6 linked regions of the Homo sapiens genome follow. The protein of the gene in region 6 purifies or fractionates together with the protein of the main gene of each other region. This does not show direct contact. Each region holds a gene or a part of one and is shown on either strand. Other genes may lie near its edges.

Evidence for each region.
Region 1: the proteins of SCN1A (region 6) and SCN4B purify together in Homo sapiens (affinity purification with western blotting, with the first as the bait; one study listed by BioGRID). This does not show direct contact.
Region 2: the proteins of SCN1A (region 6) and DHCR24 purify together in Homo sapiens (affinity purification with mass spectrometry, with the first as the bait; one large-scale study listed by BioGRID). This does not show direct contact.
Region 3: the proteins of SCN1A (region 6) and RABL3 purify together in Homo sapiens (affinity purification with mass spectrometry, with the first as the bait; one large-scale study listed by BioGRID). This does not show direct contact.
Region 4: the proteins of SCN1A (region 6) and CDC42BPA purify together in Homo sapiens (affinity purification with mass spectrometry, with the first as the bait; one large-scale study listed by BioGRID). This does not show direct contact.
Region 5: the proteins of SCN1A (region 6) and DNAJC16 purify together in Homo sapiens (affinity purification with mass spectrometry, with the first as the bait; one large-scale study listed by BioGRID). This does not show direct contact.

Annotation. Positions count from the first base shown.
Region 1 is NC_000011.10:118,142,330-118,147,035, reverse strand, and holds part of SCN4B (sodium channel regulatory subunit beta-4 isoform 1 precursor), read left to right. Parts: intron 1-1,602; exon of another isoform or gene 1,603-1,806; coding exon 1,807-1,979; intron 1,980-2,974; coding exon 2,975-3,203; intron 3,204-4,706. UniProt on the Homo sapiens protein: Regulatory subunit of multiple voltage-gated sodium (Nav) channels directly mediating the depolarization of excitable membranes.
Region 2 is NC_000001.11:54,866,696-54,870,195, forward strand, and holds part of DHCR24 (delta(24)-sterol reductase precursor), read right to left. Parts: intron 1-3,500. UniProt on the Homo sapiens protein: Catalyzes the reduction of the delta-24 double bond of sterol intermediates during cholesterol biosynthesis.
Region 3 is NC_000003.12:120,704,012-120,708,717, reverse strand, and holds part of RABL3 (rab-like protein 3), read left to right. Parts: intron 1-2,603; coding exon 2,604-2,718; intron 2,719-4,706. UniProt on the Homo sapiens protein: Required for KRAS signaling regulation and modulation of cell proliferation. Regulator of KRAS prenylation, and probably prenylation of other small GTPases. Required for lymphocyte development and function. Not required for myeloid cell development.
Region 4 is NC_000001.11:226,988,159-226,993,492, forward strand, and holds the end of CDC42BPA (serine/threonine-protein kinase MRCK alpha), read right to left. Parts: 3' UTR 1,707-5,334; downstream 1-1,706. UniProt on the Homo sapiens protein: Serine/threonine-protein kinase which is an important downstream effector of CDC42 and plays a role in the regulation of cytoskeleton reorganization and cell migration. Regulates actin cytoskeletal reorganization via phosphorylation of PPP1R12C and MYL9/MLC2.
Region 5 is NC_000001.11:15,560,839-15,565,544, reverse strand, and holds part of DNAJC16 (dnaJ homolog subfamily C member 16 isoform 1 precursor), read right to left. Parts: intron 3,404-4,706; coding exon 3,220-3,403; intron 1,617-3,219; coding exon 1,434-1,616; intron 1,263-1,433; coding exon 1,186-1,262; intron 1-1,185. UniProt on the Homo sapiens protein: Plays an important role in regulating the size of autophagosomes during the formation process.
Region 6 is NC_000002.12:166,124,738-166,130,077, forward strand, and holds the start of SCN1A (sodium channel protein type 1 subunit alpha), read right to left. Parts: upstream 3,284-5,340; 5' UTR 3,034-3,283; intron 2,274-3,033; 5' UTR 2,187-2,273; intron 1-2,186. UniProt on the Homo sapiens protein: Pore-forming subunit of Nav1.1, a voltage-gated sodium (Nav) channel that directly mediates the depolarizing phase of action potentials in excitable membranes.

The sequences.
Region 1 (4,706 bases), on a different chromosome or scaffold from region 6:
AGCCGTAACTGTTCTCCAGGGGATTCTGATGCGCTCTCAAGTTTGAAAACCATGGCTCTAGAACAAATCCTGGTTGGCCACAAATCCTAGGAGCTGGCCAAAAATAAAGGCTAATTGAAATAACTTCCCAGCACTAATTGGAGCCCTGGTGGGTAGATCTGGGTCTCTTAGGCAAGTTACATAACCTCTCTAGGCTCAGTTGTCTCACCTACAATGTGGACCTATAATAGTACGTGACTCATAGGACAGGCCGTGAGGATGAAATGTGCCTGGCACATAGTAGATGCTCAGTTAATATCAGCTAGTACTATTGTTAGCGACAATGGCCGAATCACGATGGGGTTACTGGACCACGGGGTGTGATTTTAGGGCTGGGGGATATAAGCACTTCACTTTGTCATCAGAAGCTAAGGGCACAGGAAGAAGCTGAGCAAGCAGGGCTGCCTGCTGTCCTTGGAGATCCTTTTCTGTCATTTGAAAAGCATTGCTCAGACGCATTATCATCCGGTGGGGGCAAAACAAGAGGTTTATGATGCAGAACAGGGAATTAAGTTAGACAACAGAGGGCCTTCCTGAGAGTGGGGTTGGAAGGTGCCAGTGTCCTCTAGGGAGGAGGTGAGGCAGGCATCCACTTCCAGACACCCTCCCCGCCCCCGCCTCCACCGACCTTGAGGCGAGTGGGGTTTCCTTGGGGCATCTGCAGGACTGGGGGTGGGTGTGTGTGTGGGGCGGGGTGGCGGGGAACCAGGCCCCCTTACAAGGACTCCGGAGCGGGAGTTTGGAGGCCGTGAGTGGAGAGGCCTAGTCCCAGCGGAGGGGGCCGCATCGGAGTGCTGGGGCGGAGGTTCGAAGCGTGAGAAAGAAGCCTGGGGGCGCTCGGGGACGAGGGGGCGGAGTGTGGCGAGAAGGCCGGGCTGCAGGGCTCAGGAGGGGACCGCGGGTCCAGCGCCCTCCCCGTCCCGCCCCCGCGCGCGTGCACTCGGGCTGGCCCGGAATCCCTCCCCAGGGTGTCTTCTGCCACTGACTTTCCCACCCTGGCTGCGCCCGCGCGCCCCCGCGGCTGCCAAGCTCCAAGCCCCGCGTCGGTCCCCACCCCCGCCGTGTTCCCCCCTGCCAGGCCGTCTTCCTGCGGTTCCCAGGGTCCCGTTTGGCGGCCAGAGGGCGTCGGACTCGGCTGGCCCAGCGAGGTCCAGCCCGAACGTGTCCTTCTGCCTCTCTGCCCCTGGGGACCAGGGAGGAGCCTCCAGGGCGGGGGAACGAGAGGCTACTGGACGGCGGCCCGGGACTGCGGCGGCCGCGTTTCTCTTCTTCACCTTACGGGACCCGGCTCTTCCCCCTCCTCGACCGCCCCGCCCGTCAGTCCTGAAAACCTGGCGAGAGGCGCGTACTGTCCTAGGGGAATTCCCCTGCAAACAGAAGGGAGCCCGCCCTGCGCGTCCTGGAGTGGGTGCGGCAGGAGCGCTTCCAGGCACTGCGTCCCCAGGTGAGGGGCGGAGCCGGGGCGCGGTTCGCGGCAGTGGCCAGGCCTTTGTTTCCTTGGGTTGGGGTGACCCCTGGTGGTCATCCAGAGCGCAACAAGGGCTACTCCCTGGTCCAGAATTCAGTCCTTTCCAGGGGAGAAATGGAGAATGATGGAGGGTGGCCCAGGCGGTGCTGATTGGAGTAGACAGCCATCCTCCCGAGGTTGGCACTGAGGGTGATAGAGACCTACCTGCCTGGCCAAGCTACTCCGCCCTGCCTAAGCATCCCCTTCCAGAGCTCCAGGCTGGTGGGGTTTTATTAAGGGAGGCGGTGCTCCTTACACAGGCCTCTTCCTGCTCCCCGTAACCCTGTCGCTGGAGGTGTCTGTGGGAAAGGCCACCGACATCTACGCTGTCAATGGCACGGAGATCCTGCTGCCCTGCACCTTCTCCAGCTGCTTTGGCTTCGAGGACCTCCACTTCCGGTGGACCTACAACAGCAGTGACGCATTCAAGATTGTAAGTATTTGGAGGAAGAACAGTACAGCCCAGCCTCCCTCACCCATGCCTCGCCTCCTACGCTCTGGTCCCTTCTGGACTGAGACCCACTGCGATGGTCCCCAGAACCCACCTTTTGCCACCCTTTCTCCCAGTATTCTTTTCAGAGCCTGCCAGGAAGGATGTAACTGGGAGAGATGCTTAGATCGTGTTGCCAGAATTCGGGGACTGTTGGAATTCTTGGCTAGAGTCCTCTGTCTGGTCTTAAGAAACACCCGGAGCTTGGATTGCTTGTCTAAAAATCAATAGTTTAGTCTAAGAAACAGGAGAGAGAAAGGCCTTGGAAAGCTTGGAGAGAAGGAATGAGAAGAGTCTGAATGAGGGAAGGGCTGAGAAGCTGGACTGGCAGGGAAAAGAGAGAGGAAGAGAGGGAGAGCTGCAGGAGCATTGGCGCGGCTGCGGTGGGGGTGGGAGTGAACTCACTAGATTGTACTCACTCTACAATCTAGTGGGGGATCCAACCTGAGACTTTCACAGGGAAGCCACAAGAGACCAACTCTGGTTATAATTAAATGCTGACCTCAGAGGGTGCTGACGGGCAGAGCTGTGGGATTGATCCAGGTCTTGACAGGGGGCCAAAATTCAGTTGGGCAGGTGACATGGTGTCAGCAAAGGCTGGGTGGGAGGTGACAGAGGGAGATGAGTGCGGTGCTTGCAGGAGTCATTAGGTAAAAGGCTTTTATGAAGAGAGCAGTAAGAGCTGTGCTGCATTCCAGGGAGACCTTAATAAAAGGAAATGGGTTTAGCCTGAAACAAGTAAAATTCAGGTTAGACAGGCAGAGCTATTGACGCTGGAAGAGGAAACCATGGGGGGAAGGAGCAGGGCGTGACTACAGGCTCTTCCTGGTCCTGGACAGGGGAGGCATCCAAGGAGTGGGCTGGTGTGATGTCATGACCCTTGAGGACCCCGATTCTTTCTCGGCTACTTTCTCACCCCAACTCCCTTCCTCCACCAGCTCATAGAGGGGACTGTGAAGAATGAGAAGTCTGACCCCAAGGTGACGTTGAAAGACGATGACCGCATCACTCTGGTAGGCTCTACTAAGGAGAAGATGAACAACATTTCCATTGTGCTGAGGGACCTGGAGTTCAGCGACACGGGCAAATACACCTGCCATGTGAAGAACCCCAAGGAGAATAATCTCCAGCACCACGCCACCATCTTCCTCCAAGTCGTTGATAGACGTATGCAGTAGGGGCTGGCACAGGGCAGTGGCGTGGGAAGGACTTGGGAGGCACCCAACTCAGCATCACAGTGAAATGGCAAAATGGACCGTGTTGGTGTTTTCTTTTGCTTTACACTTTCCAGAGCTGCTGGAGTTACATCTAAAAGCTAGAAGAGCTCAGCTTGAACACTTATTCTGCTACCAAATAGCTTATGAAATACTCTCTAAGCCTCGTTTTCCTCATCTGTAAAATGGGAATATGGCTTCATTTTCCTAGAGTTGTGGTTAGAGAAGCTACCTGGTAGTGTTTTGTGGCTAGTAGGGTTTTCTCCGTATATACTGATTATTAATACCATTGGGTATTCCATTAGCAAAAATTGATTGAATGTCAGGCATTGGACTAAAAAGTGCTATGAGTGATACATTACATTCTTCCTTGAGGAATTCACAGTACAAGGTAGGACAGAAGATAAATAAATAGCTAGAATGGGCAGAACATGATGCATACATCTGTCAGTAGAGGTGAAAACAACAGAGATGGAGTAAGACATGGCCCTTGTCCTCTGGGGGCTTACATCCTACCTAGGATTCCAGTCTGACACAGGAGGACCAATCATACAAGGAGGGTGCATATGAAAAGGAGCCAGGTGGTCCCTGACCAGACCTGGTGTGGTTAGAGAAGGAGGATATGATAACCAGGGCTGGAGAAGTGAGGCATGGCCCCACTGAGGGGAGGGGCCTGGAAGACTAGGGAAGTGCAGAAGCAGAGAGAAAAAGGGAAGGGGACTTGCGCAAGGATCCTGACTCTGCTGCATTTTGTGTGTACCGGGAGTTTGCTGCTCTCCTGGATGACACTGAGTCCCTGGAGAGGGAGACACCCGTGAGTTCAATCTCGAGTATGCAAGGGCGGAGCCAGAGGTTATCCAATCAGCTTTTCTGAGCCTGGAGTCATAGGTCTGCCTATGGTGTCACCTCTTCCTTTCTGTCTGGGCTTCTGTCACCCAGCTTGTACTCAGCCTTTTCAGAAGGAAGAGAACGGGCATTTGTGGAGCGTTTTCTGGGTGCCAGATCCCGAGTTAGTTGCTGTCATTGATTTTAGCTCCTTTGCTCCTCACCAGCTCCCTTGAGGTGGATCGTCTCTCCATCTGTATGGATTCATTCATCCATCTGTTCAACAAATATTTACTGAGCACCTTGTATGGGGCAGACGTTATTCTAGATTCCGAGGATGTGATATGAACAAGATAGACAAATTCCTGCCTTTATGGAGATTACCTTCCTCCTCTTCTGTGTATGGAGATACCAATAGAAAATAAAGAAGAAAAATGATATTGTAAAAGAGAACATGGCTAGTGTTAAGAAGAAAAAATAAAGCAGGAAAGAAAGATGGGGTGCCAGCAGGGTGAATAGGGAAGGGCTCTCTGGAAAAGGCGATAGAGTGGGGATATTTGAAGGAGGTGAGAGAGGAGCCATGAGGGCATCTTTGGGAAGATAGGGAGGGAACAGTGAGTGCAAAGGCCTT
Region 2 (3,500 bases), on a different chromosome or scaffold from region 6:
TGGATCTCTGGCCTCCAGCACTTGCAGCTTATCTGTGTGCCACCCGCTTGTGCAGGCCCACCCTGCTGGTAAGGCCACCCTGCTGGTGAGGCCACTCTGCAGGGAGGAAACTGGGGCTAAAGAGCCTCTTTGCCCAAATTAGTTTTGGTGTGGATGGTATGGGGCAGCGCAAAAAACACTCACGCTGGCCTCTGCCTGCTAATGTGAACAGGGGAACCCAGCAGGAAACAGAGCAACCTGATCTAACCCCAGGTGAGGTGTGTCACATACCTGGCAGTGGCAGCAGCTGCATAATGAAAGTGAGACTTAGGGCCACCTGGATACAGGCGCTCCTGGTGCTCACTGATGCATCAGGAGCCATGCAGAGAAGCCCAGGACATGGGAAAGAACCCAGATAGTCTGTCTTTTCCAGGCACACACCAGCTGAGGAGGCCAGGTGGCTGCATGAGCTCCAGTCCACCCCAGCCCTTGACTGCAAGCCACTTCCTATCTCTGGGCCTCCTCTGTGAAATGGGGGTAGGCTGCTTCTCACAGGATTGCAGCAATGTTTACACGGGGCAGTGCCTGCAGAGGGCCCATCACAGGGCCTGGCACACAGGGACAAATTCCTGAATGCTTAGAAACAGAAATGTTTGGAAGCAATGCTTCTAAAATGAAATGCCCAGATGTCTAATGGCATCCACCACTCTGCCCCAGCCCTGTTCCCTCAGGTATCAGGGTCTTGCTCACTGGGGCACTTGGCAAATATCCCTCTGCTGCTGATTCTGGGAGGGCCTTTGGGTAAGGCTCTCTGTGCCTCACAGTCTTCTCCTTGGGAAATAAGGGAATCAGATCAGGTCTCCAAATATTTCAAAAGCTGGGCAAACCCCTCTGCCAAATCATAATCTTAGGGAGCATCTAATACATCAAATGGATGGCAGCAGAGCCACTTTGGGTACAGTGGGGGTGGTGACTCCCCTTGGTCCCATCCCTCCTCAGCTTTCCTACCCCTGAGAGCCTCAAGGGAACACCTCAGAGCAGCTGGAAAGCTCTGGTCTAGATGTCCTTGCTAGGTGACTTGGTGCTAGGTGACACACACTGTCTGAGCTTTGGCCTCAGGCAGATCCAGGGGCCCAGGAGGGCCAGAGCACTTCAGCTCAATGTCCGGTATTGCCACCGCTGTTCCAGGACCTCCAGCACTTACCGCAGTGTCCCACAGGGAGCAATGTTTGCATAGTGCTAAAGTCTGCAGGCTGATATGTCAGGGAACCGACACTGAACCAGGAGTCAGAAGCTGGAATTTAAATCTGTTCTGTGCTAGCTGTGTGTCTTCAGAGAAGTCTCTTTCCCTTTCTGGGCCTCATTTCCTTATTTGTAGAGAGGATTGTACCGGATGATTTTATAGCCCTTCACAACTTTAAAATGTTTTAAGTATGTATATAGGTATAGATTAAGAGTCTTAAGGGATGCCTATCCTTTGATCTGCGATTTTATGTTAAGATATTACTCCAATTGGCCGGGCGCAGTGGCTCACGCCCGTAATCCCAACACTTTGGGAGGCCGAGGTGGGTGGATCACGAGGTCAGGAGATCGAGACAATCCTGGCTAACACAGTGAAACCCCATCTCTACTAAAAATACAAAAAATTAGCCGGGCGTGGTGGTGGGCGCCTGTAGTCCCAGCTACTTGGGAGGCTGAGGCAGGAGAATGGCGTGAACCTGGGAGGTGGAGCTTGCAGTGAGCCGAGATCCCGCCACTGCACTCCAGCCTGGGTGACAGAGCGAGACTCTGTCTCAAAAAAAAACAAAAGATATTACTCAAATTACAGACAAAAGATGTTCATTGCTCCATTAATTAAAGTAATAAAAAAATTGGAAGCAACTTAAATTTCCAACTATGGGCAGCAATAGGGCATTCATTTCCTCAGTGCAAGGTGCAATGCAAGGTTGGCCATTCTAATTGGGATTCTTTAATTCTAATAAGAATGGACATTAACAGTGATGGTTATGAAGGCAATGTAATAGTTCTAATAAAAGATGGATATTAACAATGACGGTTATGAAGGCAATGTAACAACAGGGGGAAATGCTTATCACAATAAACAAGAAAAAGGCTGGGTGCAGTGGGTCACGCCTGTAATCCCAGCATTTTGGGAGGCCGAGGCAGGCGATCACCTGAGCTCAGAAGTTCAAGACCAACCTGGGCAACATGGCGAAACCCCGTCTCTACTAAAAATACCAAAATCAGCCAGGTGCAGTGGCATGCGCCTGTATTCCCAGCTACTCGGGAGGCTGAGACAGGAGAATTGCTTGAGCCTGGGAGGTGGAGGTTGCAGTGAGCCAAGATCGCACCATTGCACTCCAGTCTGGGTGACAGAGTGAGACCTTGTCTCAAAACAAAAAACAATAAACAAGAAAAGACAAATGTGAACCAAGTGATCACTGCTGAAGACAAACAAACTGCAAAATGCTGCAAAGAGAGGCTCACCCTCACAAGTGATCCAAGAACTGCAAAATAAAACGAGATACTATTTTTAACGCTATCAGATTGGCAAAAATGAAAGAGTGATCCTATTTAGTGTTGGCAAGAATGTAGGGAAAAAGGTGTTCTCACAGACCATTACTACAAGTAGGCATAAACACAGCTCTTCTCGAGGGCTGTTTGGTCATATCTATTAATATTTAATGTGCTCAAACCTTTGTGTAACAAAGTCCATTTTTCTGACTCAATCCTACACAAATATTTGTACAGAAGGACAGGATAAATGTGAGTCTTAAATCTTCAATGCAATCTTATTTGTAAGAGCAAAACAGTTTATGCAACATAAATGTCAGTAAGGGCTAAATTAGGCCAATTATTTACATGCAAAAATGGGATATTACAGAATGAAATGAAGACATGCACACATACATATACACACACACACACACAGAGAAATAGGTCTCGGCTGGGTGTGGTGGCTCACACCTGTAATCCCAGTACTTTGGGAGGCTGAGGTGGGAAGACTGCTTGAGGCCAGGAGTTCAAGACTAGCCTTGGCAACATAGCAAGACCCCATCCCTACAAAAAAATTTTAAAAATTAAAAAATTAACCAGGCCGGGCACAGTGGCTCGCACCTGTAATCCCAGCACTTGGCTTGGGAGGCCAAGGCAGGCAGATCACCTGAGGTCAGGAGTTCGAGACCAGCCTAGCCAACACGGTGAACTCCATTTCTACTAAAAATACAAAAATTAGGCAGGCATGGTGGTGCATGCCTGTAATCCCAGCTACTTACGAGGCTGAGGCATGAGAATCGTGTGAACCTGGGAGACAGAGGTTGCAGTGAGCTGAGATCACGCGCTGCACTCCAGCCTGAGCGACGGAGTGAGACTCCATCTCAAAAAAAAAAAAAAAATTTTTAACTGGACATGGTGGCACACGCCTGTAGTCCCAGCTACTTAGGAGGCTAAGGCAGGAGGATTGCTTGAGCCCTGGAGTTCAAGGCTACAGTGAGCTGTGATCGTACCACTGTACTCCAGTC
Region 3 (4,706 bases), on a different chromosome or scaffold from region 6:
TCATCATGCAAAAAGGTATATACAATGGTATATATGAATAGAATGCATATAAATAAGAAAAACAACAATAAGACTAAGTATAGTGTGAGGTGACCTCTTAGAGAAGGAAGTGAAACCTAGTTTAGACTTATACTAGAGTGATCAACTTGTATCAGTAAAATTACTTGTCAAATTAAGATATCTATCTGATCTGGCACAGAGAAGTCTGAATATATAACACCTTTGATATTTAGGTATTTTTGAGACAGAGGTACAATAAAAATTATGAATAAATAATAGAGATAAATACCACTCAAATCCTAGAAGCTATGGAATTCTGAGTTGTAAACTTGTAAGTGCTGAAGAAGAAATCCATCTAATCTATATTTGTTTATCTTTTCTGTACCTACTATTCATTAGTGATTTGTCTCCTTTAATATTATTGAAAGAATTGCATATATCCTATGTTGATTTTGCAGATAAGACTGAAATATATTTCCATTTCTTAAAAGTAAAAAAAAAAAACTGCATTTATTGAAAAACCTATTTCTGTGTTCTTTCACCTTAGCTCTGGAACATTCTTCCTGGTAGAAGCACTCAAAGTTCTTTATTCCATCTACTATCCTTAGTTTCCTAAGAAACTGAACATAAGGATCACTCTATCCAAATGCACAGTCCATATTCTTAGCGATAACTTTCTTCCCTTAATACCCTACATTCTTCCCTCTCTAATAGCCTAGGCTAGTAATCCTTCAGAAGGAAATAATGAAGTGTCTTTACTTCTCTCCCTTAAGATTAAGATATATTATCATATCACCCTGACTCCTTTCATCTCAGCCCCACCTTGATTCTTCTAGCACATGTTCTACAAAGCAATAACTCTCAGCCCAAATGAAAGAGAAAGAATAGGGGAAAAGGGTACTCAAATGCCCTTAAAAGCTCAAAAGTCTTACCTAAAGATCCTCAGTAAAGTCTTCCCTGTCCATCTAATAGCCAACTTAGGCCTTTGTAATTCTTTTACTCCCCCGTCCAAAATTCTCACCCATAGTTTTGCCATATTTATAGCCTGGGGAAAAGGAAAGGGAGAAAATATATGCCAGTTTTTTGCCCTAAAATGGAGATTTTATTCTGCTTACCACCAGTCTTTACTGTCAGATTACCTGAGTGCAAATTCTGACTTACCATGTGCCCAAGGACAAGTTACTCTACTTCTCTGAACTTTAGTTTTCTCTTGTGTATAAAGATAATAATAATTCTTCATAGGACTGTTCTGAAAATTAAATTAGATAACACATGTAAAGCACAATATTTAGTACATTAGTACTGAATAAATATTAGCTGTAGTCTTTAATGGTGGTTCTTTATTCCTTTTTTTAAATCTGTGCCACTGATGCTGATTAAAACCCCTCATTGAGGAAGGAAGAGTGGGTACAATTGGATATTAGGGCAAGTGTCAGATCTCTATTAGTTTCAGACACCAGAAGAGATGCAGGTTTATCTAAGCTGGCTGGAACAAGTCAGCTATAGCTTGTACAAGCCCTTTAGTTACACAGATGGCTATAAAAACTGTAGAAGCCAGCTAATTCTACCTCTTCTGCTTTTCTTTTTCAAATTGACACATACCACCTCTTGAAGATGGAGGAATCATTGGTTTCATGTCCTATTCACAATCTGGGTAATATAGAAAAGGGTTGGGAGTTTGAAACCTGTAGTGTTTTGACCATAAGGTGATATCCTAAATTCTAGTGGGCATCAAAGTTTTTCCTCTTTTGTCTATATCTTGCTGTAATAATTAATTCCCTGATTTTCCTTTCTATCTAGGATTTTAATTGATTCTCTTCAGTTGTATTTTAGTGTATTTCTGGGCCTCGTTACATTTTGTTATTTTTCTCAATCTATCAAAATCCGTGCATGTACTTTCTACTATCCATACTTCTTTACTATTTAATGTCTCACCCACTCTCTTATAGTGGCATATTTCTTTTGCTCTAATAACTAAATCTCTTACAGGTAGGAAGCTTACATAACTAATCATTATTCAAAGAACTAGAAAATTAGACATTTGAATAGATTAGTCTCAGATGATCTACAGGACACTATTTTGTCAGCTAAAGAATAGCAATTGTATCAAATCAGTACTATTTTAGTAGATTTTCATTACCTAATATTACTTTTAGTGAGTATAAGTAATATATGTATGTACTGGTATCTATGGCAGTACTGTGTACAGTGAAGAAACAACATAACTTTTTGAATGAATAATTTCATATGTACTTGAAGTAGTTTTGATTCTCTTGATTAATAAAGTGGTTCTACAGGTAGGAACAGGCATGGAGTAGGCACTCAGGAAGTGTTGAATGAAGTAAAGATCTGCTAAAAGTTTAATGGGATTTCGTCAGCCCTTGTAAAATAAAGAGTTATAAAACTGACAGAGAAAGGTTTATGGCTATTTATAAATATTTGTAGAGAAAATTTTAAAATAATTGTCTCTGAGTTGTTAGTCATACTAGAATGCTAGATTCATTAAGCAACCTAATGCTTCTGTTTACTAAGCTTCATTTGGCCAATTGTGAAATGAAGAGGAATTGTTAAGGGATTAACATTGTTTTCTCTGATTATTTTAGGTATTATTTTCGTACACGACTTAACAAATAAGAAGTCCTCCCAAAACTTGCGTCGTTGGTCATTGGAAGCTCTCAACAGGGATTTGGTGCCAACTGGAGTCTTGGTGACAAATGGGTGAGCCAATTTCACAATTGGTTTGAAAGATTGTAGCAATCACAGGAATGTACTTCCCTGAATAACACTTTGTAAAATGTTTGATTTGCAAAGATTTTTCTTTCAGTGTATAGATTATCTTTTCCTTTTAACAGTATCTTTCACAAAGCAATAGTTTTCATTTTGATGAAGTCTGATTACTCTTCTTTTCTTCTATGGATTGTGCTTTTGATATCATGTCTCAGAACTCTTTGCCTAATCCTAGATGATGCAGGTTTTCTCTTATGTTTTCCTCTACAGATTTTATGGTTTTACATTTTTATAGTAAAACATTTATATAAAACATTTTAAGTTTTATAGGTTTGCATTTAGATTTATGATCTAAGTTAGTTTTGTACGAGATGGGAGGTTTTGGTTGAGGTTAACGTTTGCATATGAATGTCTAACTATTCCAGCACCATTTATTGAAAAGATATCCTTTCTCCATTGAATTGCTTTTGCTCCTTTGCCAAAAATCAGTTGACCATATTAGTATGAGTCAACTTCTGGACTCTAGTTCTGTTCCATTGATCTATGTGTCTGTCCCTTCACCAGTACTACGCTGTCTTAATTATAGTCTTAAAATTGAGCAGTATGATTCCTTCTACTTTATTCTTTTTCATAATTGTTTAGCTATTATAGTTTATTTGTTTTTCCACATGAATTTTTAGAATCAGCTTGTCTATATTGACAAAAATTTTGGTTGGATTTTTATTAGAATTGCATTGAACCTATTGATCACATTGGAGAGAATTAACATCTTTATTCTGTTGCATCTTCCAGTTCATGAACACAATATATCTCTAAATTTATTTAGATCTTCTTTTATTTCTCTTACCAGCATTGTGTAGTTTTCAGCATACAAATCCTGTGCATGTTTTATTAGATTTATACCAAAATATTTAATATTTTTTAAGCTATTGTAAATTGTTTTTTTGTTTTGTTTTGTTTTGTTTTGAGACTGAGCCTTGCTCTGTTGCCAGGCTGGAGTGCAGTAGCACGATCTCAGTTCACTGCAACCTCTGTCTCCCAGGTTCAAGCAATTATTGTGCCTCGGCCTCCCAAGTAGCTGGGATACCTGGCTGATTTTTGTATTTTTGGCAGAGACAGGGTTTCACCATCTTGGCAAGGCTGATCTCGAATTCCTGACCTCAGGTGATCCACCTGCCTTGGCCTCCCAAAGTGCTGGGTTACAGGCATGAGCCACCATACCTGGCCATAAATGGTATATTTAAACTTCAGTTTCAAATTTTCCATTGCTAGTATAAAAAAAAATAGAATTGATTCTGAGTGCTGACCTGTATCTTGTGACCAGAGTTTTTTAGTACAATCCTTAGGATGCTCTACATAGACAGGTTTATTTCTTCCTTTTCAATCTGTGTGCTTGTTGTCTTATTTCTTGCCTTTTCGCACTGGCAGCAACTTCCAAAAGGGTACTAACTAGGAGTGATAAGAGTGAATATCTATGTCTTACTCCAATCTTAGGGGGAAAGCATTCATTTCACTATTAAGTATGATGTCAGCTTTAGGTTTTTTTTGTTGACATCATTTATCAGGTTGAGAACATTTCTTTCTATCCCTAATTTGCTGATAGTTTTGTTAATATCATGAACAGATACTGAATTCTGTCAAAAGCCTTTTCTGCATCAATTGATATGGACATGTGGCTGCTTCTTTAGGCTGTCAGTATGGTGGATTACGTTCACTGATTTTCAATACTGGTGGATTACATTCACTGATTTTCAAATATTGAACCAGCCTTCCATTCCTTGGTCATGGTGTATTATTCATTTTATGTGTTGCTGGATTTGATTTGCTAATATTTTGTTGAGGATTTTTATCCATGTTCATGACAGGCATTGGTGTGTAGTTTTCTGTTCTCATAATGTCTTTGACTGGTTTTGGTGTGAGGATAATGTTGGCCTCATAGAATTAATTGGAAGTATTCCTTCCTCTTCTATTTTTTGGAA
Region 4 (5,334 bases), on a different chromosome or scaffold from region 6:
TGGGCTCCGGGACAGGATGGAGAGGCCTGGGTGGCGTCCGTGAGGCTGCCTGGCTAGCAGCGGCGCCCAGCACCACTGTCAGATCCCTGGCTGAAACTCTTGTGGCCCTCTTCTTAAGGGTATTTGCTGTTGTCTAGCAAACTCCTCTGCAGCACTCAGATCTGAAGCCATCGCCCTGCAGAGTAAACAGCAGGGGAAGAACCCAGGCCAGCCCCAGCCAGGGCTCTCACAGTCTCCTCTTCCTCTTGAACAACAAGCCAAACAAGTCAAGCAGCAGCATGCGGGGGGAAGGGAGAGGAGAACAACAGCAGCCAGCATTTGCTTCCCCAGGAACCACGACCATAACTGCTGGAACAGGAGAAGTTTTCTAAGGGAAAACTGGAATGTGGTTTGTGTGTCCTAAGTCTGAGAGCCGGCTGAGAACTAGAGCCCTCCCTGTGAAGACAGTGGGGATCACTGGATTGCAAATGACTTTAATCCCCAAGTAAAGCTGGCTCTGAAGCTGGCCACACATACTTATTCTTTTGTACCTATTTTGATTTTTACAGTATTGTGATGAATGACTCCCCGTGCTCACCCATTCACACTGAGACATGGGGCATGAGAACATGGCAAATCATGGCTTGATTTTCCCAGGGTCTGTGTCTTCGTGTCCCTAACATCTAGTGAAGGGCTGGACACCACACAACAAAAAAATATTTGTTACTGTAGGCTTTGGCGGTTACTCATAAGGACAAAACACTAAACCATAGGCTAGAAGTTAGATTCTGAGTGCATTAACTCCTGACACTCCAAGTGGGCCTTTTTACAGAGGGAAAAAAAAAAAAAGAGGCCCAGAGGTTAAGTGGCAGAATGAGGATTTGGAACAAGACAGTCTAGTCTTACAGTCTACACTAAGGGGACCAAACGAAGGGCTGGCAAACTATGATGGTCCAAGGGCCAAATCTGGCCCACTGCATTTTTGTAAGTTTTATTGGGGCACAGCCACTCTCGTTTATGTACGTAGCAGGCTAAGACTGTTTTTGCACTGAAATGCCAGAGCCGGGGAGCTGCAGCAAACTATATACACAAAGGCACAAGGATTTCTTAACTGGTCCTGGACAGAAAAGGGTTGCCAAGCCCTGTTCTAAAGCACTGCACAGCTGACACTACAGTAAACCAACATAACAGTATCAGCCACAAATGTCAATTCCATGGGCCATTGGAACCGGAAGTATTCTCCGAATAACTACTTAGCTGCCACCAGTTCAGGAGTTCCTTTAACCCCACCCCTGGACCTTCCCTGTATGTTCTTAGATGAACCATTCTAACTCCAGAAAAGCAGTAACAGTCCGTCTTGTTTAAGTGACACAAAATCAAACTGCTCCCACATTCACACTGTCAGGGCCACTCAGGAAACCTCACGCAGCCAGGGTTTGGTCTTGTGGACCGAAGTAACAGCAACAGCGAAGTTCTGGCCAGAAGAGGGGAGTTGAAAGCTTCAGGAGAATTGAACATCATTCTTACCCGAGCTAAGGAAGAAATTAAGAAAGTCCTAGATTAAACCACAGGGGCAAACTAACCCCATGTCCTTTTACGGCATAAAGAAGCAGCCTGGATGAGGAAGGAGGCCAGCAGAAAGAAGAGAAGTGACAGGCGGAGAGGTGGCACCTTTCTCTATTTCTCAGACTTTCAAGTGGGGGGAAAAGAGACAAAATACTCAATGCTAACAGTTCTCTGTTTTATTGCAATACAGCAAAGTCTGGTTAATATTAAGTGATATCAACATAAAGTATTGGTGAGGAGTCTTTTGTGACATTTTTTACCATCCCACCTTAAATATTTCTGTGCAAAAGAATCCACATCATTGTTTGGTAGCAGAGGATCTCTTAAAAAGTTCCCTAAGACACTGAGGGCATAAAACCAAACAAAATAAAATAAGGAGTGATAGGCTAAAGCAGTATCTTCCCCTCCATCCACATTTGTCAGCATTATATTCTAACCAAAAAATGATCACACCAGGCCATGCAAAACTGTACAATATTACGAGAAAAACCCTAAAAAATTTATAAAATGAATGATATTACACTATCAAATAAAAAGACAAGTCATTTTGTTTTCATGAGATTTCAAGGTTGATTTGAGTCAGCTTCCCCCGGAACTGCACGGTGTCCTGTGTGGGGAGGGCCCAGCGTGCTGCCAGTGCTGGGGGGCAGGGCTTACACTCCTTATCTAGCAGAAGTGCACAGAGAACTCTGGACTTGAGTAACAAAGTCATAAGGAAAGAGATTTTAAAATGGGCTCCATGAAATGCAGCTCATCTAGTTCAGGGCTGGGCCAGAGAGACGGGGGAGTGGAGTGCCCAATTCATTCCCTGTTGTGCTCACCAGACATGGGCTACGGCAAAGTCTGCTCTGAGCGCCCCTCTGTCTAGATTGGATGGGGAGCCTTAGGCTTGGCAAGGCCTACCTGCTGGGAGACTGCAGTGGTTGTGATCCCGGCCAAAGGCGGCAAATGGCCCTGCTGCGTCTGTGGTTTTGACCTCTGCTCACCCCTGCTCTGGCTTTTCCTTAATGATACCTGAGATGCCACATAAATGTAACCAGTCTTTCTCAGAAATAGACGTGGCCACTAAGTAACAAAATGACATAATTCTAACCTATGGAAGGAGAGAGAGGCTGAGAGCTAGCCAGGAATGATAGATTGTTGCTGTAAACATGACAGGAATTTCAGATTCTCCCCTGAAATGTGAGTACAATAATTGGCTGGAAAACCAAATAGATGGGCTCCTTTTAGTTGTATCTCATAGCCTTAAAGCTGTGCTCCCTAGGAAATAACAGAAATCACTAAGTGTGTTGGGGATGTGTATAAATACATACATAATAACAAAAAATGTAAGATCTACTTTAGCAATCATTTGACAAGAAGCAAGACTTTTGTTTTTGGCAAAAAGAATATATATGTATGTAATTTTAAATACCCAAAGCACAAACATGATTAGTCAGAATTTGAGGGTAGATAACTTGGCTGGACATAGATAGCACCAAATACTAACACAGATAGACTATCCCAGAAATGCCTCTGAATGTATTTTTTCTATTGAGAAACAGGTTTCTGCTGCCATATACGTTTTTAAAATGTCCTGCATGAAAACAAAAGAAAACTTCAGATAGTAATAAAATACTTTATCTGTGAGCTGTGCTACTGACTCCTCTGAATGGTCATTATGTTTTCTTTGCCTAGAACCCACTCCCTGTCTTTTCACATCATTCTTCTCAGAAGCTTCTGGAGGTAACAGGCTTCATATTTAAGGGTGGGATAAACCCAGTAGGATGACCGTTATTTTGGGAAAACCCTCCCCAAAACTATTCCCCCTGGCAGTGTTTCTCTCCTAAAGCCCTGCTTTTAGAATCTGCACGCATTCGGGACTGCTCTATTATGACTGATGAGATTACTTGCCATTGCAGTGGAAAAATCAAAGAGTGCCATGGTGCAATCCATGGGGTGAATATGGACAAGTCGCCCAGTTAGCCTGGCAACCTAGACAAGCCTCAGTAGCTCTCTCTCTCTGCCCTGTTGGGAGGCTGAAGAGTATGACCCATAGCAGTGGAGCTAGACTTTAGGTAGGGTTATTATTTTGATCTTAAAAGCATCCTTTGCAAAATAAGCACCTATAAGCAACAAAAATTCATAATTACTTGTCAAAGCTACAAACTAATGGCTTATGTCAAGTCCTGTTAATCTCGGCTTGGGATGGCCTCCTCCCTGCCTGAGAAGAGAAGGGAGAGAGGAGAAGGCAAGGGGAAAGGGAAGAGGAGGATGGGGAGGGTGGGGATGGGGAGGGTGGGAAGAGTGAGGAGGAGAGGAGGGGAGGGTGGGGAGAGTGAGGAGGGTGGGGAGAGTGAGGAGGGTGGGGAGAGTGGGGAGGAGAGGAGAGAAGGGTGGACAGAAGGGGTGCGAGCTGGTCACGAGCACCAAGCAGGGGGCCGGCTGGCTGACTCCCTTCTCTCACGTGAGGTGCTGAGGACAAGGATCTACCAAGTCATATGACAATGATCCAACTAAAGGGCCAACCCTTGGTATTCAGGTGAGAAAAGTATTTTTATACTTCATTCTAAAAAGCAGAAAGATTTGGGAGATTAGAACTGTGCTGTGAATTACACCCATCCAAAATAAAATATAATCAAATCTGAGCTGGCACCAAACTCAGAATGTTTAAATGTCAAAGCTGTTACATGAAAATTCCCGATTATAGGTGCTTACAATGGAATCCCCAGCAGGATCCTTTCTTCCCTCACTGCATCTCAGAACCTTCTCCACACAGCAGCATCACCTGGAAACAGCCTCAGCTCCCTGCACATGCCGCAGGCCAGCATGGTGGCCACCTCAGTGACACGCAGGTCACCTCAGTGACACAGACGTGGAGTCACAGACAGCAGCAGTGAAATGATGGCCTTAAACACTGCAACTCAGGTTAGCAACTGCAGGAAAACTTTCTTCATTTTCACTGAATTTTAAAGAGAGAATCCTGTCTCTATTTCTCAGAGAAACTTAGGTGAAAAGTAAAAGAGAGGCAAAATCTCTTTCCTTCATGAGATACTTTTATTTTTATCTCTTTCTCTACTCATGTGCTTAACTGGTGAAATGATTCTGTAGAAATAGATCCTTCTGATTCTGCATCTCATTTCCTTATGGCAACTACAACAGGAGGAATCCAGCTGGAAATGCCACTAACCCCACAATCCAGCACCTGAGAGAGGAAGCCAGTCGGAGCGCCGTGCTGGGCTCACTCACTCTGGCCTGCGCACTGGGGTTGTCACATCCATTTTCCACTGGCTATGGGGAATAATATTTGGTTAAGGCTGTTGAAGCCCTTGCTTTTGAGGTTTTACATTATTTGGTAATGAAAGCCGTTTTTTCTTCCTTCCCCAGGCTTATGTGAAGAAGCCCACGCCCACTCTCAACAAAACAGACTCCTCCTTGGGAAGCATCTCCAGCCCTGGGACAGACACCTCGCTGTGACTTAGGGAGGGACAGGATTAGCCCAGGAATAAAAGCATTTTTAGAAATTGTTTTCTGCACCTTCAGAAGCTACAACACTCCTTGTAACCTTTCAGATGGAAGGGATCAGAGGTGACAGAATCGTGTATTTCTACATTTATCTGCGGAAGATAAAATACAATAAAAAGTGAGAAGTGTTCAAATTCCACCACTAGGAAAAGAAACATCTTGGGTAGAGATGAGTTCGCCTTTTGCTGCTGCTGCTGAAGTGGCTTCAAATGTTAAAGCTCTGGTGCCCAGGGCATGCCCCAAACCAGCAAAACCTGGCTCTGCAAGTGTTTTCTACAGCTCCCC
Region 5 (4,706 bases), on a different chromosome or scaffold from region 6:
CAGATGTAGCCCAGAGGGGTGGAGTAGGGAGATAAAATTGATCTTTCAAGATTTCATCTAGGACTGGTGTTCTGAAATTTTATGTACCTACCAACACCCATCAAAGGCTGTCATTTGTCAGGTGCTGTGTTGGGTGCCAGGAATCACAAACACGAATGAGATGTGGTTCTGTCCTTCAGGGGCTCATGGTCTCATCAGTAGGTGGGAGTGGGTATCCCTCTTGAGGTTAATTCACTCATTCCTTTTACATCTATACACTGGACTCCACGTGTGTCAGGCCCTGTGCTGGGCACCAGAGGTTCCCTGATGAAGAGACAGTCCCAGGCTCTGCTGCCCAGAATGGCAGCCATGGGTGATCCTTTCCTAGCCAGTGGGAAAGGGTCAGTCAGCCAATATAAAAAAAGGGAAGTGGCCGGGCATGGTGGCACACGCCTGTAATCCCAGCACTTTGGGAGGCTGAGGTGGGTGGATCACCTGAGGTCAGGAGTTCGAGACCAGCCTTACCAACATGGTGAAACACTGTCTCTACTAAACATACAAAAATTAGCTGGGCATGGTGGTGGGTGCCTGTAATCTCAGCTTCTCGGGAGGCTGAGACAGGAGAATCGCTTGAACCTGGGAGGCAGAGGTTGCAGTGAGCTGAGATCGTGCCACTGCATTCCAGTCTGAGTGACAGAGTGAGACTCTGTCTCAAAAAAAAATAAAAAATAAAAAATGTCCGGGAGCAGTGGTTCACACCTGTAAGCCCAGCACTTTGGGAGGCCGAGGCGGGTGGATCACCTGAGGTCAGGAGTTTGAGACCAGCCTGACCAACATGGTGAAACCCTATCTCTACTAAAAATACAAAAATTAGCCAGGCATGGTGACAGGTGCCTGTAATCCCAGCTACTCAGGAGGCTGAGGCAGGAGAATTGCTTGAACCTGGGAGGCGGAGGTTGCAGTGATCCCCAGATTGAGCCTGGGGGACAAGAGCAAGACTTTGTCTCAAAAAAAAAAAAAGTAAAAAATAAAAAAAAGGGAAGTTACTGAAAGAAAGAAAAAGGGGAATAGAAAATGTGTAAACGTTCTTCCACTTGCCCCATCAAGTGTACCTTGAAATTTAATAATGATGAACTCTTTTCAAAAGAAAAACAGTGATATCAGTATTAACAGAGAAAAAGAAATTCAGCCTGGCAATATCCCTACCAGTTGTTGTGAAAAATGCTATCCCAGCAGTCTGAGATGTAGTCAGAAGCAGAGTAGAACCATCGAAGGAGAAAAACCTATGTAGAGAGAAAATGGATGATGGTCAGGACTAAAGCCGGAAGGGAGAGTCCCTCTACCCTGCAACACAGTGCTGCTGCTGGACCTCTGCTCTGAGCAGAAATCCGCCACCAGCACTGTGTACTCACAAGCCCTCCTGGTGTCCCACCCTTCCCAGCCCCGATGCTCACAGGGGCAAGTTCATCGGTCAGGTCAGGAAGCACTGCTTCAGAGGACAGAAGAGCTGGATCTTTACGCAGCTGGTCGAGATAGCCCAAGAGGATAAATTTGTCACTCTCACTCCCAATCCAAGGGTCTTCCAGGGTTTTATACACCACCCTTCCTGCTGTGTTGCGCCTTTCTAAAATAGACACCTGGAAGAAAAGTAGAGAAAAAACATCAGAAGTTTCAAAAGCATGGTTAAGTTACAGTTGTTTGCTTTTTTTTTTTTTTTTGACGGAGTCTTGCTTTGTCGCCCAGGCTGGAGTGCAGTGGCGTGATCTTGGCTCACTGCAAGCTCCGCCTCCCGGGTTCACGCCATTCTCCTGGCTCAGCCTTCCCAAGTGGCTGGGACTAGAGGCACCTGCCACCATGCCTGGCTAATTTTTGGTATTTTTTTTTTTTTTTTTTTTTTTTTTTAGTAGAGATGGGGTTTCACCATGCTAGCCAGGATGGTCTCGATCTCCTGACCTCGTGATCTGCCTGCCTTGGCCTCCCAAAGTGCTGGGATTACAGCTGTGAGCCACCACACTTGGCCCAGTTGTTTGTTTTTTGAGACAGAGTTTCGCCCTTGTCTCCCAGGCTGGAGTGCAATGGTGCGATCTTGGCTCACTGCAACCTCTGCCTCCCAGGTTCAAGCAATTCTCGTGCCTCAGCCTGCTGAGTAGTTGGGACTACAGACAGGTGTGCACCACACCAGCTAATTTTTGTATTTTTAGTAGAGATGAGGTTTCACCATGTTGATTAGGCTGGTCTCAAACTCCTAGCCTCAAGTGATCCACCCGCCTCGGCCTCCCAAAGTGCTGGGATTATAGGTGTGAGCCACCGCGTTCGGCCTAAGAAATAACTTTTATGGTGACTTTCCTAAGCTTTTGTTAAAAGTTAAAGCTCTTTTTTCTCAATAGACTTTGCTCTATAACCTTGACTTAATATTAATGGAAACCTTTGTTTTTTAGAGAGATTTTCCATGATTGCGAAAATGATGAAAAGTCAGAGGAGAATTTCTTGTTTCTGTAGGAAGTGATGACAATGCAGGAGAAAGGCAGGAGAGATCAACCAGGATGAAGTTAAAGAGGCAGAGGGGGGCAGAAATTTCCAGAGCACATTACCAGTGGCCTAAGGATTTGTAAAATCTAGGATCTAGGATGCTGCAAGACCAGACTTGCCTTAGTAAAAAACTGGTGAAAAGCACTGATGACCTTTACCGTTCACTGATAGAAAACATGGTTTCTGTGGGGGCCTGAGGCTGACATCCAGAATGTAAAAAGACCAGGTCAAAAACTGTTTTAAGAGTAGGCTTTAGGCCAGGAGCAGTGGCTCATGCCTGTAATCCCAGCACTTTGGGAGGCGGGAGGATTGCCTGAGCTCGGGAGTTTGAGACCAACCTGGGCAACATGTCGAAACCCTATCTCTACAAAAAAATACAAAAAATTAGCCAGGCGTGGTTGTGTGTGCCTGTGGTCCCAGCTATGTGGGAGGCTGAGGTGGGAGGATCACTTGAGCCTGGGAGGTCGAGGCTGTAATGAGCTGAGATCATGTCACTGCACTCCCAGCCTGGGAGACAGAGTGAGACCCTGTCTCAAAAGAAAAAAAAAAAAATCAAGAAAAAGGAAAAACAAAAGAGTAGACTTTGAAAATAGGCTTCAGAGTTTCAGATTTCCTAGAATCTGTATTCAACACTCTCAAGGAAGAAGGAAACAGAATCAAGTGCCACATGGTTATGAAGAGCCTGGGATGAGGAGAGACTCTGTGGCTTACCGCTGATTTCCCTTGAAACGCCTCACTGTCTGGTAGTAAGGTGTCGGCAAACTCCTGCTGCCGATTGCTGTAGACATGCACAAATCTCACTGTGTCTTGAGTGTTTGCCAGGGCAAAGGACAGGAAAGCCTCAAAGGGTTTGCTCAACTTGGTAGTCTCAGCAGTCAATAAAACCACACAGTACCTGCACAACAAAAAGACAAAACTTTATAACCAATCCCTGATGGCAGGGCCAGCACCTATAATGGCAAGTGAAGGTGAAGAAGACGAGGAGCTCATCTTATGGAAGTGAATACACTGTGCCCAGTGAAAGCTGACATTTCAACTAAGGGAGGATTTCCAAGTCATTAACAAACTGTTTCTCTTCCCAATCTGTGATGTTTTTCCCAAACCAAACTTCTTTACCACATTTACGAATTTTAAAATTTTATATATATGAAATTTTATATATATGAAAACTATATATATATAGTTTTGTTTATATTGCCCAGGCTGGTCTTGAACTCCTGGCCTCAGACAATCCTCCTACCTCAGGCTCCCAAAGTGTTGGGATTACTGGCATGAGCCATCGTGCCTGCCAGGAATTTAAGGGGTTGGTCACTGAATCTCTGATGCAGCAGGGCCTTTCATTTTATTTTTTGAGATGGAGTCTTGCTCTGTCGCCCAGGCTGGAGAGTGTAGTGGTGTGATCTCGGCTCACTGTAACTCCGCCTCCTGAGTTCAAACCATTCTCCTGCCTCAGCCTCCCAAGTAGCTGGGATTATAGGCGTGCACCACCTCACCCAACTAGTTTTTGTATTTTTAGTAGAGACGGGTTTTCACTATGTTGGCCAGGCTGGTCTCAAACTCCTGACCTCAAGTGATCCGCCTGCCTCAGCCCCCCAAAGTGCTGGGATTATAGGCGTGAGCCACTGTTCCTGGCCGGCAGGGCCTTTTAGAAACTATTTGTCCTAGTTCTTCCAGTATAGGGAGGGCTGGTCAAATCTCTCTCAGGCCAGAGGCCACTGAGCCTCATTCTGAACGGCTTCCTTTGCAAGGTTCCAATGGAAAGTTTAGCTATTCATTCTCCCAAAAATATTTACTGAGCACTTAGTATATGTCAGGTAATATAGACAATATTATTGCCCTCATGGAGCTTATATTCCAGTGGGGAAGACAGAAAACAGATATATTATGACAGGTATCAACAAGTGCTATATATTAAAAAAAAAAAAAAAGATGAAAAGGGGACAGAGAGAGGCCAGAGTGGGTAGAAGCCAGGCTCCATCAGACAGGTTGGTCAGGGAAGTGCCAACTGAAAAGGTGACATTGTTATGACAGGAAATGGGGTCAGAGCATCCCAGGTAGAGAGACTACAAGTGCAAAGACCCCAGGATGGGGAGTGACTGGATCTGATTTGCATTTTCAAACATTATTGGCTGACGTGTGGACATCTGCCTGGAGGGTACAAGAGTGGAATGGAGCAGAGAGACTAGTTAGAAGGCTGC
Region 6 (5,340 bases):
ATCAAGAACACAGACGCCATGGCCACGGTGTGGCTGGACTGCTTGGATTCTGCCACTTACTAACTGTATAACCCAGCAAGTTAATTGAACCTCACTGTGCCTTGGTTTTGTCACCTGTAAAATTAACAATAGTATCTACCTCATAGGATTAAATGAGATCATATTTGCAAAGTACTGCTTAGGATAGTGGCTGGCACAGAGTAAATGCTATATGTTTTTGATAAATAAAACAATTAATAAATGGAAATCTAGGAATGTGGACAAAATTTAAAAGTTGGAAAAGCAAACTTTGGGGCAGCTTGGGGAATTCTGTCACAACTTATTTTTCTGATCACAAGTGCAATGAGAATAAATTTCTTCCCACCCTACCCTAAACTAATGCAATCTCAATTGAGCGGTGGAACATGCTTCATTCACTAATTAGAATTTAAAAAGGAAGTGATAACCTCACGGAGCACAGCCCCATTGACCCTGAGGGTGACTATACAGGACCTTCAATTGCTGATTCTCTCCCATCCTTCTCTGGGATCTGTTTCTCCCACCCTCCCCATTCTGAGGTAGCTGGAAGAGAGTAGGCTTTGTGCCCTTTGGCGAGTACAGGGAGAAAATAGTAGGTTCAGCCTCTCCAACTGCCCAGGGAGAAAGCAATACCTTTCAAGGTCCCCAGGCTAAATTTTGGAGGGATGCTTTTGTGTGTCACTGTCAGGCTCACACCGACATAAACCCTTGAGAAATGCCTGGTTGGTGACGTCCTAGAGGTAACACCAAGCAAGCCCCAGATTTTCTCTTCTTCGTCAGCAATTCCCAGATGAGGTGCTCTTGTGTTTACCCTCTCTGATTGTCTGGATTCCCTGATAGTACCCTCTATACAAGGAACTAGAATGTTTCTTACTGGATTCCTCTGTTGGTGGTGATAGAGTTTACTTTGGGTATCTAGTCGGTCTGGTTGCCCCTGGTATCTCTGGTTGGTACAACAGAATCCTGACTGAGCTCCTTAGTGCCTTCTTGAATACTGTATAATTAACTAGGCCTCCAATTGTGCCCCGCCTTGCCCCAGCCCATAGATGGACAATCCCTCCTGCCATGTCTTAAAGAGAAATTACCATAATAAATGACTCTCCAGACAGCACATTTCCCAGCAAGAGGGGGCATGTAAACCAAGTCTATTAGTATTGGCAGCAAAATCCAATGTGTTATTGTTACCAGTATGAACACTCTGGGTATCCTGGCCTCCTATATAGATATTTGAAACAAAACAGACAAACAATGTGAAGGAAGGAGGAAAAACAGCCACACAAATGAGTTACAGTGAGTTTAATGAAAACTAATTCCATTGCTGGGTCCATGTGATATAACCAGCCACTTGTGCTCTGTTCTAGTGGTTTATAATGTTACCTCACCCTCTCCAAGAAATTGGTTTCCCGTAAATCTCTGTGGCCATTCATTCCTGTCTACACATTATGTTCCTAAAATAGACACCAGCTAAAAATCTCTTCCAGGAGCTTTGTGAAGGAAGGCCTAAATTGCAAAACTCCTCCTAGAAGAGAGATGTGATTTTGTAATTGCTTCATTGCAATTACAAAAGCAACAATCATAAAAGAGAGTTTTAAAAGAGTTTTTCACCACAGTCATTCTCCTGAAATGCACAGCTGAGGGAAAGAAGAATGTCAGATGCCCCGCGAACGTGCAGAAGCTCCCAGTTGCATCACCCTGGCGTGCCAGGTATTGCAGCAAATAGGAAAGGTAAGCTACCCACTTCTCTGGGCAGGAGAAACTAAAGCAGGAATCACCAACCTCAGCATGGAATTTTCCTATTTCTGTCTGGCAACATCCTCTTGGGATGATTTAAAGTGCTTTTTGGAGAAATATGTTCTGTTACTATACTAGCGCATCAGAAATACCACGTGAACCTGTAAATCCATAGAAGAAGAAGACACATTTTATAGGTGTGATAGCAACAGCAATTGGCAATTTGCAAGTTTGCTACTGCACTCAGAAATATTTAGTCACATGCACATATTGACAGTAATATACCCTGCCTTGACTTAATTGTTGCATTGGACAGGTGAAAAGCACATACCCACCACTCCAGACCGATTTGTTAACAATCACCAGTGAGTAATCAAAGAGAACAAAAAGAAATGAGAAGTAAATGCAGCAAGTGGGTCGGGTCTTTAAACACATACCTCAAACAGGTAGGAGTCAGGAAATCCATGATAGCAAAGACATTTGGACAAGCCTCACCTCCACTCAGAAATAATTCTTATGCTGTTCTGAAAAGCAAGACGGTTCACACTAGGAACTGAGCAGTATCTGCAGTATCATTGCTGGTTGTGACCTCTGTCTAAGTAAAAGTAAGTCAATGTTTCCTATTTGGCATTGGATAGAAAAGGGGACTCTTTACCACTCTGCTCAAGCTCTTTTTTAGTGTGGCTCAATAGGAGTTGGCAGAGGTGGGGGGCGGAAATCATTGCCCCTTCCTTGTTCAAGGCATGAGGCATTTCTTCTCAAAAGCCCAGCCTCAGCCTCAGGAAGCTGAATACCCCTGCAATGCTAGGCTCCAGCAGCAGCCCCGCTGCCTTCTTTCTTCCTGTGGAGTTAAAACTGAGATCTAATTTTTGCTCCGTCCTTAAGAACAATATGACCTCTATTCCCAGCCAGCTAGTCCACTTCCAAAGCACCAGTGAAGGAGGGGGCTTCAACAGGATCAAAAGGGACCTTGAATAGGATGAAGGCAAGCAAAGGCAAGAACTGGCCAGATGCCAAGCTATTTCAGGCCAAAGAATCCCATCTTCTATCAAAATGCTGAACTGCAAAACAAACCTGATTTCAGTTCATGGAAGGTTGAGAGAGGAGGGGGGAGGGGAGGGGAGGAGAAGAGGAGGAGAGGGAGGAGGGGGACAGTTGGTCTGAATACACATACAAAAATGGACTTCCTGCTCTGCCCAAACTGAATTTCCATGGACTCTTTTTCCAAAGGAATAACTGGAATGAATAAACTTAAAATCAAGATGAAACAATTAGATGGCTTACCTGATTAAAAGGAAAATTATCCATCTGCAGTGAGGAACAGCATCACCCAAAGACGAGATGATAACAATGTGCCTTCAGTTGCAATTGTTCAGATTCCTTCTTGCAAAAGGTGTCAAAGTATTTACAAGGGCTGCAGTCTCACTGGGGCAGAACACACAGACACACAAACACACACAAACGCACACATACACACATGCACCAGAGACCTCTGCAGTATCCTCTCGGCTTCATCCTCGCCTCACTCTATGGTACCTAATACAAATCAGCAAATAGCTTGTTTCAAAAAAAAAAAAAAAAAGTCAAGACAGCACCTTACATTACATCGCCATCTAGTGGCTAAATATTAAACACTTTCTCACAATCCAGATTTATGATTTCTTCCTCAACCTCTTTTCTCTCAGCCTTTTTTCCTTTCTTCTCTGTAATCTCCCAGTATTGCTTCTCCTTGCTTCTCTTTCATTCCCTATTGCTATATAATATCATGAACCTAATGACTCAAAGAGGAAAAGGTTTGAAAGTAAATATAGCTATTTTCAAGTAGTACTTGAAAAACTTTAGCATTATTTTAGTTTGAAACTGTTACTTTATTCCTAATATGAATCATTGTTATCTATAAAAATGATATATCTTATAAATAAAACTGTCTTTTTATTCCACCAGGAAACAATCAGGTGGCCCTTTATTACAGATCTATGGCTTCACATTTTTCTGTTTTAATATTGTGTTTTAGGATTAGGTTTCATATTATAGTGAACAGCTCAGAGTCACAAAATGTGAGTTTTACTTCAACACTGATGAACACATGCCTTTAACAAAGCCACTGAAGTCTTCTATGGACATTTACATTCTTACTATCTTCATCTGTAATTACAGATTAAACAAGACTTTCAACCCACTCTCAATTTCTATGGTTTTACTATATTTTACTCCAATGTTTTCCCATCTTGTGGACACAGCCTAAAGCTTAATTATAATAACACATTTTAATAAGCAAATATATATAGAAAGAGAGTCCAATTGCCTATTACCCAAAGATAGAATTATAAAAACCATGAATATCAGTTTTTTCTAAGACAATAAAAATCCATGCCAAACTAATTATAACTCTTGGAACTGAGAGTAGAGCTTTTTATGTTATATATTGTATTCTAAAATGGAATCAGCCTTAAACATTCAGTCATACATAAAATCACGATTATGTGTAGATTAGTCATTGGAAGTAAATATTTCATCCTCATTATTTTTCTTTTGCCATCTAACACACTTATTACAATCATTGCATGTGTTTTATCATTTATCAATATAACCTTCAATATTTAATCCTTCTCTTCCTTATTACAGGATGGTGAGATAAATACTATTAATGTTATTATATTATAATTATTCCTATTTATACTTGAGAACACTGAAGCTTTCTGAGCCTTACTGAGGTTTATTCAAGACCACATAGCTTGCAAAGCAATAAAACTAAGGCTGTTGGTCCCAAGAGCCCAAAGAATAATCCACTGTTCTTTGCAACATACCTAAAAGTTCACCATTTTTTCCTGTTCTAGAATCACAGAAAAGTAATTTTGATTTCTATGTTTACAAAACATTTACTAGCCCTTAATTATGGACCAATGGGTCCATCTTGTGGATCCATCTTTTTATCTATAAAAGAAAGAAATTAAGTAAGATAATTTCCTGTTCCAGCTCAAAAACTCTATCCAGTGCTTTCCCAAAAGCCAGTTGGAGTAGCATGAACACATTCATTTGAAGTTACTCAATGTCTGGGAAATGATGTTGCCCAGTATCTGGTAGAGTCAGGGCAAAGTTGAAAGAAGATGAGGAGACAGGTGATCAACAACTGGTAAACGATTGCCAAGATGTTAGAGATGAAAAGAGAGTGGGAACTGCATGAACTAACAGGCAATTTTTTTAGAATAATACATTCCATATGAATAGTACTTAGAGATTAGATATGTAAAAACACAAAATAAGAACATACCTGGCCACATGTTTTAATGAATTCTAATTGCATATTATAGGTGCCAATTTTTCTGAGTGTCTGCTCTTAACAATTCCCCCAATAGTTCTTCTCCCCTGATCCTTAGTGGTAAACCTACCCTCTTGCTACAGAGGACTGGAGCAAGAGAGGGTATCTACGCAGCTGACCTGGTCAAAGAGAGCCACTACATGTGATTCTGGCAGCTATGGAGTCAGCTTTCCCTCACCATGGGGACTCAGGACCAGGTGGACCAGGATACTGAAATAGCAGCCAGCCACACAGATGTGGAGGAAGAAGTGACAAAAGACAGAGACAGACTG